Homo sapiens: one gene and its partner. The protein of the gene in region 2 interacts with the protein of the main gene of each other region in a biochemical or structural test. Each region holds a gene or a part of one and is shown on either strand. Other genes may lie near its edges.

The links. Proteins that work in one complex are often made in the same cells at the same time.
Region 1: the proteins of ERCC6 (region 2) and IDH3G form a complex in vitro, tested with the Homo sapiens proteins (one large-scale study listed by BioGRID).

Annotation. Positions count from the first base shown.
Region 1 is NC_000023.11:153,791,527-153,795,785, forward strand, and holds the start of IDH3G (isocitrate dehydrogenase [NAD] subunit gamma, mitochondrial isoform a precursor), read right to left. Parts: upstream 2,801-4,259; coding exon 2,720-2,800; exon of another isoform or gene 2,633-2,719; intron 1-2,632. Other genes in the region: SSR4 (translocon-associated protein subunit delta isoform 4 precursor), read left to right, coding at 2,799-2,865, 3,148-3,228. UniProt on the Homo sapiens protein: Regulatory subunit which plays a role in the allosteric regulation of the enzyme catalyzing the decarboxylation of isocitrate (ICT) into alpha-ketoglutarate.
Region 2 is NC_000010.11:49,466,122-49,469,621, reverse strand, and holds part of ERCC6 (DNA excision repair protein ERCC-6), read left to right. Parts: intron 1-3,500. UniProt on the Homo sapiens protein: Involved in repair of DNA damage following UV irradiation, acting either in the absence of ERCC6 or synergistically with ERCC6. Involved in the regulation of gene expression.

The DNA of each region.
Region 1 (4,259 bases), on a different chromosome or scaffold from region 2:
CTGACTGGAAATGCCGGACAGCTTCAGAGCCAAAGCTGCCTGAGCCAAATGTGCCAGGTGCCAAGTGACCTGCTGTCCTGGAAGAAGCCCCACCTAGAACACACCTGAGACGGTGGCAGAGCCAAGGTCTTCCCTGTCACTTGGGGATGCCCTGCCACTTGACCACCAGGCAGCAGCAAAGTGTTCCAGCCAATGGCAGAAGCATCATAGCCATTGGCCAAAGAGCCATGCCTTCCAGCTAGAAGTCCAGAAAGGCTCGGGCGGAGTCTGACCTCTCCCTGTCTGTGTGTCCCTGGCCGGCACTCATCAGTCCAAGCCAGGGGCTAGGAGAGGGTGCCCACAAGGACCAGAGCCCCGAGGATAGCTCAGCTGATCTGTGTGGCACCTGGATCTGCAAGCACAGGCACGGTCGGGACTTTTCTGTCTTCTCTCTAGCGCTTATCAACGGGTCGGGACTTTTCTGTCTTCTCTCTAGCGCTTATCAACATCTGAAATCATCTTATTTGGGGGCTCTTGTAAGCACGCAGAAAGCGGCTTCGATGGACCTTCCTCCAGGGAGCTTTCCCTGATGCCCTAAGGCTACTGAGCTGGGACCCTAAGGCCCTACTTACCCCCTTCCCTAGGTTATCACTGCATTGCTCCCTCCTCAACCCCTGAGCCCGAGAGGAGGGGCCAAGTCAGTGTGGTCCAATACTGTCACCCTAGGACCCAGCACAGTACCTGGCCCAGAGCTGGCACATAAGGAACATTTCCTGAGTGAACAAGCACATCAGAAAATGAAAAAAGATCTGGAGACTAGGGAGGCCTCGGTCCAAATCCACCATCCACTCTTCTTGAGATGGCTTCATGGCCTCATCTGAAATTCACAGAACGGAGGTACCTACTTTCCGTGACTGTTGGAAAGATTAGGGGACAGGAGGTGTGTGAGCTGCTCACAGTAGCTAGTGCCACACAGCACGCCTGCCCCTTCACCCCACTGGCCCCTCAGGTCAGAGTTCAAGGCTGGTGTCCCTGGGAGGTCACGGGTGGACCCCTGCAGCTCCCAGCAGTAGTTCCTCCTGGGCTTCAGCTGTGGCAGCAAGCCAATCTCCTGAGAGCATGGACCTCCCTCACAGATGGCAACATCACCACCAGGGCTGAGCTGAACCTCTCTGCCACCCGGTCCCTGTGCCAGGTGTTCCTTTGGGCTTTGGCAAAAGACCCAGAGAGCGCTCCAGATGGACTTCCCTGACCTTACTGTACAGATGCAGGCACCTTCCTTCAGGAGGTCGCAAAGGCTCTGCCTTGTGCCCTGACTTCCCTGTGAAGCCACCAATCAAAGGAGCCAAGTGTGAGGCAGGATGCAATATGTACACGCCTCCCGCTCTCCCATCACCCTTTCATGGTTCCATGGAAAGAAAGAACATCCACACCCCACATCTTATGCCTGCTGAGGCTTCTGTCTTTGGCATATTTCTGTTGGACCATGTGTCAATGGTGGCTGCATGTTTTCCTATGGCGTCCAAATCAGTGGGATTCAAGACCTGGGGTTCCTCTGTAAGGGTTCTCACACCCAGGACGGTCAGTCTCAGGGCAAGGCACTGCCCAGCTACCCACCGTTCACTGTCCCCTACTCCCACCCCAACGCACACACAGGCACACACACAGGGGAGGTCAGGGAGGAGGCACACATGTCTTCACCAAGAGCCTACAGGAGCCCAGTTGCTGGAGCCATCAGAGCCTCTGGAAAGCCACTATATACTGCCGTCCTTTCAGCAGCAAGGTGGGAGAAGTCAGCATCGTCAAGAGAATTTCATTAGGCACAAGCAGTCTCCCCCAGAGGTCAGAAGGAGAAAACATGGCAAGTAGAGATGTCCCTGGGGAGTGGCCGCAAAGTCACGGAGTTCTGGAAGGTCAGAGTTGACAGGATCCTTTGAGAACATGAAGTCTCCTCCCCTCTGGGTTCCAAAGGGGAAACTAGAACCCAGAGAGAGGAGGAAATGGCCTAAGGCCACGCAGTGGCTCAGTGTGGGAGCATGGCCTAGAGGTCAAACCTCTTACCCATCAGGGCCAGGTGCTGGCTGGCAGCTGCTTCAGATGGTTTCCAGCCCACCTAGGACCTAAATTAACCTCTTCTTAAATAAGTGTAAGGAAAGAAGACTCGGACCTGAATACGCAAGACCGCACACGGAGAAGAGCAGAAGCAAAACCCCCGCAGCCTCAGAAACCCTAGCTCCTTCCCATTCCAGGCGCCTCGAGGGGAAGGCATCTGGGGCTCTAAGACTGGGGGACTATGGGGGATGACTGGCAAAGTCCGGTTCTTTGCCACCGGGATAGGTGGCAAAGCGGTCCACGAGAGAGGAAACCGTGGAGAAATTTGAGTCCCGGAACCGGATTCCCGAAGCGGTTTGAGAAAGGCGGGCCGGGATACGTGAGTGACTGCCTCAGAAGGGCTCCTTCAAGGACACTAAGGAGGTGACAGCCGCCGTGGCCCACTCTCCCGGCCCGTCCGGAGGGCCCCCCGCCACCCGATGCAGACCCCCTGGGGGAGCCGGTCCAGGGCCAACTTCGGCCAATCCCCTCAGTGACAGCGGAGGCGGCCAATCAACCCCGGCGCGAAGCCCTTTCCCCGCCCCTGGTGGGGCCCCTAGCCAATCGGACTCCAGACTGCTTCGGGTGCGGCTACCCCACCGCTCCCCTGCGACCGCTGCCGCGGTCCCGTGGCTCTTTCCCTGCTCACCTCCCAGGGACGGCAGAGAAGGGCTGGCCCGAGCACCGCCTTCGCGGCGCTGCCGGCGACGGTCGCTACCTTCAGCGCCATGACGGAAAGTGAGAGCCTCCGCACGTCCCGACACGCAGATACCGCTCTCGCGAGAGTTCGACGGGGTGCGAAGTTTCGGGGACAGGCGCGGACCCGGTACTGCGCACGCGCGCGGTCGCACCGATTCACGCCCCCTTCCGGCGCCTAGAGCACCGCTGCCGCCATGTTGAGGGGGGGACCGCGACCAGCTGGGCCCCTGGCTCAGGGAGGGGCCACGTCAGTGCTGCCAGAGACGTCACAATGCCGGCCCAGCCGTTCGGTGCGCGATTGGCTGCCGCTGCCACTTACGCGTCGCTCTTCCTCGTTTGCCCCTCGTGTTCATGGGAGCTCGTTTTCTTTTCCTCTAGGCAGAGAAGAGGCGATGGCGGCGATGGCATCTCTCGGCGCCCTGGCGCTGCTCCTGCTGTCCAGCCTCTCCCGCTGCTCAGGTAGCGGCCCAGCCGGGGCTTCTTTCTTGCGAGCCTCTGACCCACGGCAGGTGGTGTTGGGGGCAGGAGGGATGCGGGGGTCCGGCCTTTCAGGGTCCGTCGCTGCGGGCCGGGCCTTCCCCCGAGAGGCAGGCGGCCTTGGGACGGGGGGACCAAAGCACCTCGCGCACGTTTACCGGCAGCCAGGCTTTTCCTTGTCTGCCCATACGAAGAGGAGTCCCCGAGCCTCCATGGTGCGCCCGGCCCCCAAGCTGCAGCACGGAACGTGACACATGTCCCGGCTCCCGCTCCCTGCGGGGTCGGACCGGAGCGAAGCTCTGTAGCGCTGAGCGATCGCGGCCAAAAACGGGGCTGGAGGAGCCACATAAGCTAGGAAGGGACCTCAGTGAGGAGAGGGAGCAAGAGCGGGGCGAGTTAGATGGGGAGCCAAAGGTGCGCAGGGCCTTGAGTGCCAGGCCGAAGACTGGCTTTTCCGGAGGGCCCTGCCTTACCCTTACCAGAGTTTTCGGCAGAGCCGACCAGGGGTCCCGTCGATTTGCATTCGTGAGGGGCTGAGGTCTGAACTCCAGAGTGTGTTTAGGAGGTGGCTGCAGCAGCCAGCCCCGGGCCCGGGGGCCAGGACTGGACAGGGGCGGCTTTCTCCACATTCCCTTTTCTGCCGTCCTTCAGGCCAGTAGCCTTGCTGCCTGCAACGTTTTGGCAGCCTAACTGGCCTCCCTTTCCGCACACTCCTCATCTGCCCCTCAGGAATTCCCTGAACTATAGTCAGGGACGTATCCAGAGGACAAGCCTGGCCATAAAACCCTTCGGGGGCTCCCCTGCGCCACAGGAAGCAGGCCCAACTTAGGCAGGACACAGAAGGGCTGGCGGGATCTAGCCCCTGAGAACTGCCTCCACGCTGTTCCTAGGGATCTGCCTCCTGTGGTCCAGACCCAGAGCCTTCTCTGACGTCCTCTGCTGAAGCCATCGTTCTGCCAGGGCACCACATTTGGACAGCGGGTGGCTGAGAACATTCCCACTTTGGGGAGCCT
Region 2 (3,500 bases):
TGGTACTCAGTTTAAGAAGGCAGGTTTATGTGTAGCATTTCAGAAAGACTTTTATTTAGCATGGTTAATTTTTTTGTTAATTTCATATTTTGAAGTAATTTCAAACTTAAATCAGTTGGGTCTCAAAAAAAAATCAGTTGGAATAATACGAAGAACTCTCCTATATCCTTTATCTAAGTTATTAACATTTTTCAGCTTTTGCTTTATCATTCACACACACACCCATCTATGCATACATTTTTTTTTTGGTAGGAATGCCACAGAGGTGATACCGTATCTTACTCAGTGCATCTATCAGGAGACACATGCTGGTTTGACCTATTACAAGTTGATTTTTAAGATCACTTGGTTAAGGTGGAGTCTGCCAGGTTTCTCAATGCTAAGGTTAATATTTTTACCTTTGTAATTAATTTGTGCTTTCAAGGAATATGCTTTGAGACTGTGTAAATATCCTGTTTCTCATCAAACTTTTATCCACTAGTTTTAATATCTATTGATGATTCTTTCCTCAGTCAGTTATTACTACAATGGTTGCCAAATGGTGATTAACATTCTATTGTAAGGAAGGTTTTCCTTCTCTCTTATTTATTTATTAATTTATTTTTAGATCAGTGTGGACTAATGGATTCTTTTTTTTTCCATGACTGTAATCCATTAGTAGGGGTATTATGATGCTCGTATTGTCTTAGATTTGCCTCATGGGTGGGAGCTCCTTCAAGCTGGCTCCTTTGTCCCTCTGGTATGTCCCCACCATTCTTTGAGCACCTCCTTTCTTCTTGGCATACTAATATATGCTGAGCTCAATTTGTATTCTGTGCCAGCCCTGGAATCAGCCATTTCTTCAAGGAACCCTGGAGAATGGTATTTAGGAACTAGGATCCGGGTTCTCAGAGTGTTCATTGCTGCTATTATGTCATTGCTTTCGTAGCCAATAGTATCAGGAAATAGATGTATGTATGTGTGTGTATGTGTTTGTTGTGTACATACATATACACATACATACGTGCATATATATGCACAACAAATTGCACAGATACACCTGTCTCTATGTCTGTGAAAACCATGAATTTGGCTTCCAGCAAAGGCAGATTAACATTTACCCTTCCATGTGAAACAATGAAAACAATGACAAAACATATGAAGCAATGGTTTTCAGACACCAAAGGGCAGTGATCTCTTGAGAGATGGGAAACAAATGAACTGAGCTCTCCAGTTGCCCTGCCCTACTGCCTTGAGAGAATTTTCGTGCTGTAACAGAAAGAGGGAGAACCCAGATGGGAGTCCAGGCAGACCCTCTGTTGAAAAGGCAGAGCTGAGCATCAGGGGAGGCCAGGGTGGCTGGCATTCACATGCAAGAGACGATAGCGGAGACAGCTCTGCACAGGGAGAGAACCCCACAGGTCTGCAGAGTCTCCACTGGCACTCAGCTGAATACTGACCAGCACATTGTGCAAGAAAACTACTTAAGGTCAGTGAAAAGGCCTTTCCTCTTTAACTTTTCGAATTAGAGGAAACATGTCTGGTGCTCACCCATGGCCAGGGATAGTGCCTGTTCCCACCAGCTAAGACTGGAAAAATATTTCATGGGGCATTGGGTATGATACAGAGTAGGGGGTCTTGCCTCTGTAGTAGGGAATGATCAGCCTTAGAGTGAGCACTGCTTCAGCCCTACCTGAGTGTTTACAGGAATATACAAATACCCAACATCCAACAAGATGAAATTCACAATGTCTGGAACCCAATAAAAAATTACTGGCTGGGTGTGGTGGCTCAGCCTGTAATCCCAGTGCTTTGAGAGGCTGAGGTGGGTTGATTGCTTGAGCCTAGGAGTTCAAAACCAGCCTGGGCAACATAGTGAGATCCTATCTCTACAAAAAATAAAAAAAAAAATAGCCGGGTGTGGTAGCATACACCTGTGGTCCCAGCTACTTGCGAGGCTGAGCTGGGAGGATTGCTCGAGCCTGGGAGGTTGAGGCTGTGGTGAGCTGTGATCATGCCACTGCACTCCAGCCTGGGCAGCAGAGCGAGACCCCATGTCAAAAAATAATAAAATGTATAACCCAATTTTTTAAATGGACAAATAATTTGAACAGACTTCACCAAGAAAGATATGTAGATGGCAAATAAATATATGAAACTTGTTAATATTATTAGTTATTAGGGAAATGCCAATTAGAACCATAACGAGATACCACTATACACCCTCTAGAATGGCTAAAATGAAAGAAGACTGACCATACTAAGTGTTGGTAAAGATGTGAAGCAGTTGGGTCTCATACACGCCTGGTGGGAATGTAAAATGGCACAATCACTTTGGAAAACAGTTTGGCAGTTGCATGCGCTTTCCTTGTGATATAGCTTTTTCAGTCCTGGGTGTGTATTTGCCCAAGAGAAATGGAAAAATATGTCCATACGAAGGCTTGTACATGAATATTCGTAGCAGCTTTATTAGTAATAGCCAAAAATGTAGAAATCAAATGTCTACCAACAAGTAAATAGTTAAACTAACCATGGCATATCCATATGATCAAATACTAGTCGACAGGTGGGGCTTGGCTCACGCCTGTAATCCCAGCACTTTGGGAGGCCGAGGTGGGTGAATCACCTGAGGTCAGGAGTTCGAGACCAACCTGGACAACATGGTGAAACTCCATCTCTACAAAAATACAAAAATTAGGCATGATGGTGGGTGTCTGGAATCCCAGCTACTTGGGAAGCTGAGCGGGAGAATCGCTTGAACCTGGGAAGTGGAGGTTGCAGTGAGCCGAGATCACACCATTGTACTCCTGCCTGTGCGACAGAGCAAGACTCCGTCTCAAAAAATATATATACTAATCAACAATAAAAGGAAGTAGAGTATTGATACATGCTACAGCATGGATGACTTTCGGACTAGTAAGATTAGTACATACTCTGATGCCGTTTGCATAAAATTCTAGAAAACACACAGTCATGACAGAAATTGGATTGGTTGTCTGGGCATGGGGTATTTGACGGTGGGATTACAAAGGGACATGAGTTTTGCAGGTGACGGCTATGTTCATTGTCTTGATTGTAGTGATAGTTTCATGGTATGTACATAATGTCACAACTTACCAAATACTGTACTTTAGCAGTTATTGCATATCAGTTACACTCTAATAAGCTCCAAAAAGCAAAATAAGATGAGGGAATACTGTTGTCTCCAATTTCATTTCAGCACCCTAGGGCCCTTTCCATGTTTGTAGCTTCCTTCTTCAAGACCTTCATTCACAACGTACTGAGTTACTTGTCAATCCTAGGATACATGGTAGCTTTTTACAATTTCTGACCTGAACTATGGCAAGAAACAGTTATACTAACTAGAATTCAATATTTGTTTTTATTTATACTAACTAAAGTTCAATATTTGTTTTTATTTCTTTTTGTCTTTAGTCTAAGTTTTTGGTCAAAACACTACTTGAGTCAAAAATAACTTAGTTCTTTTTTCTCACCCTTCATCATATTTTCAGTGTGTGCTA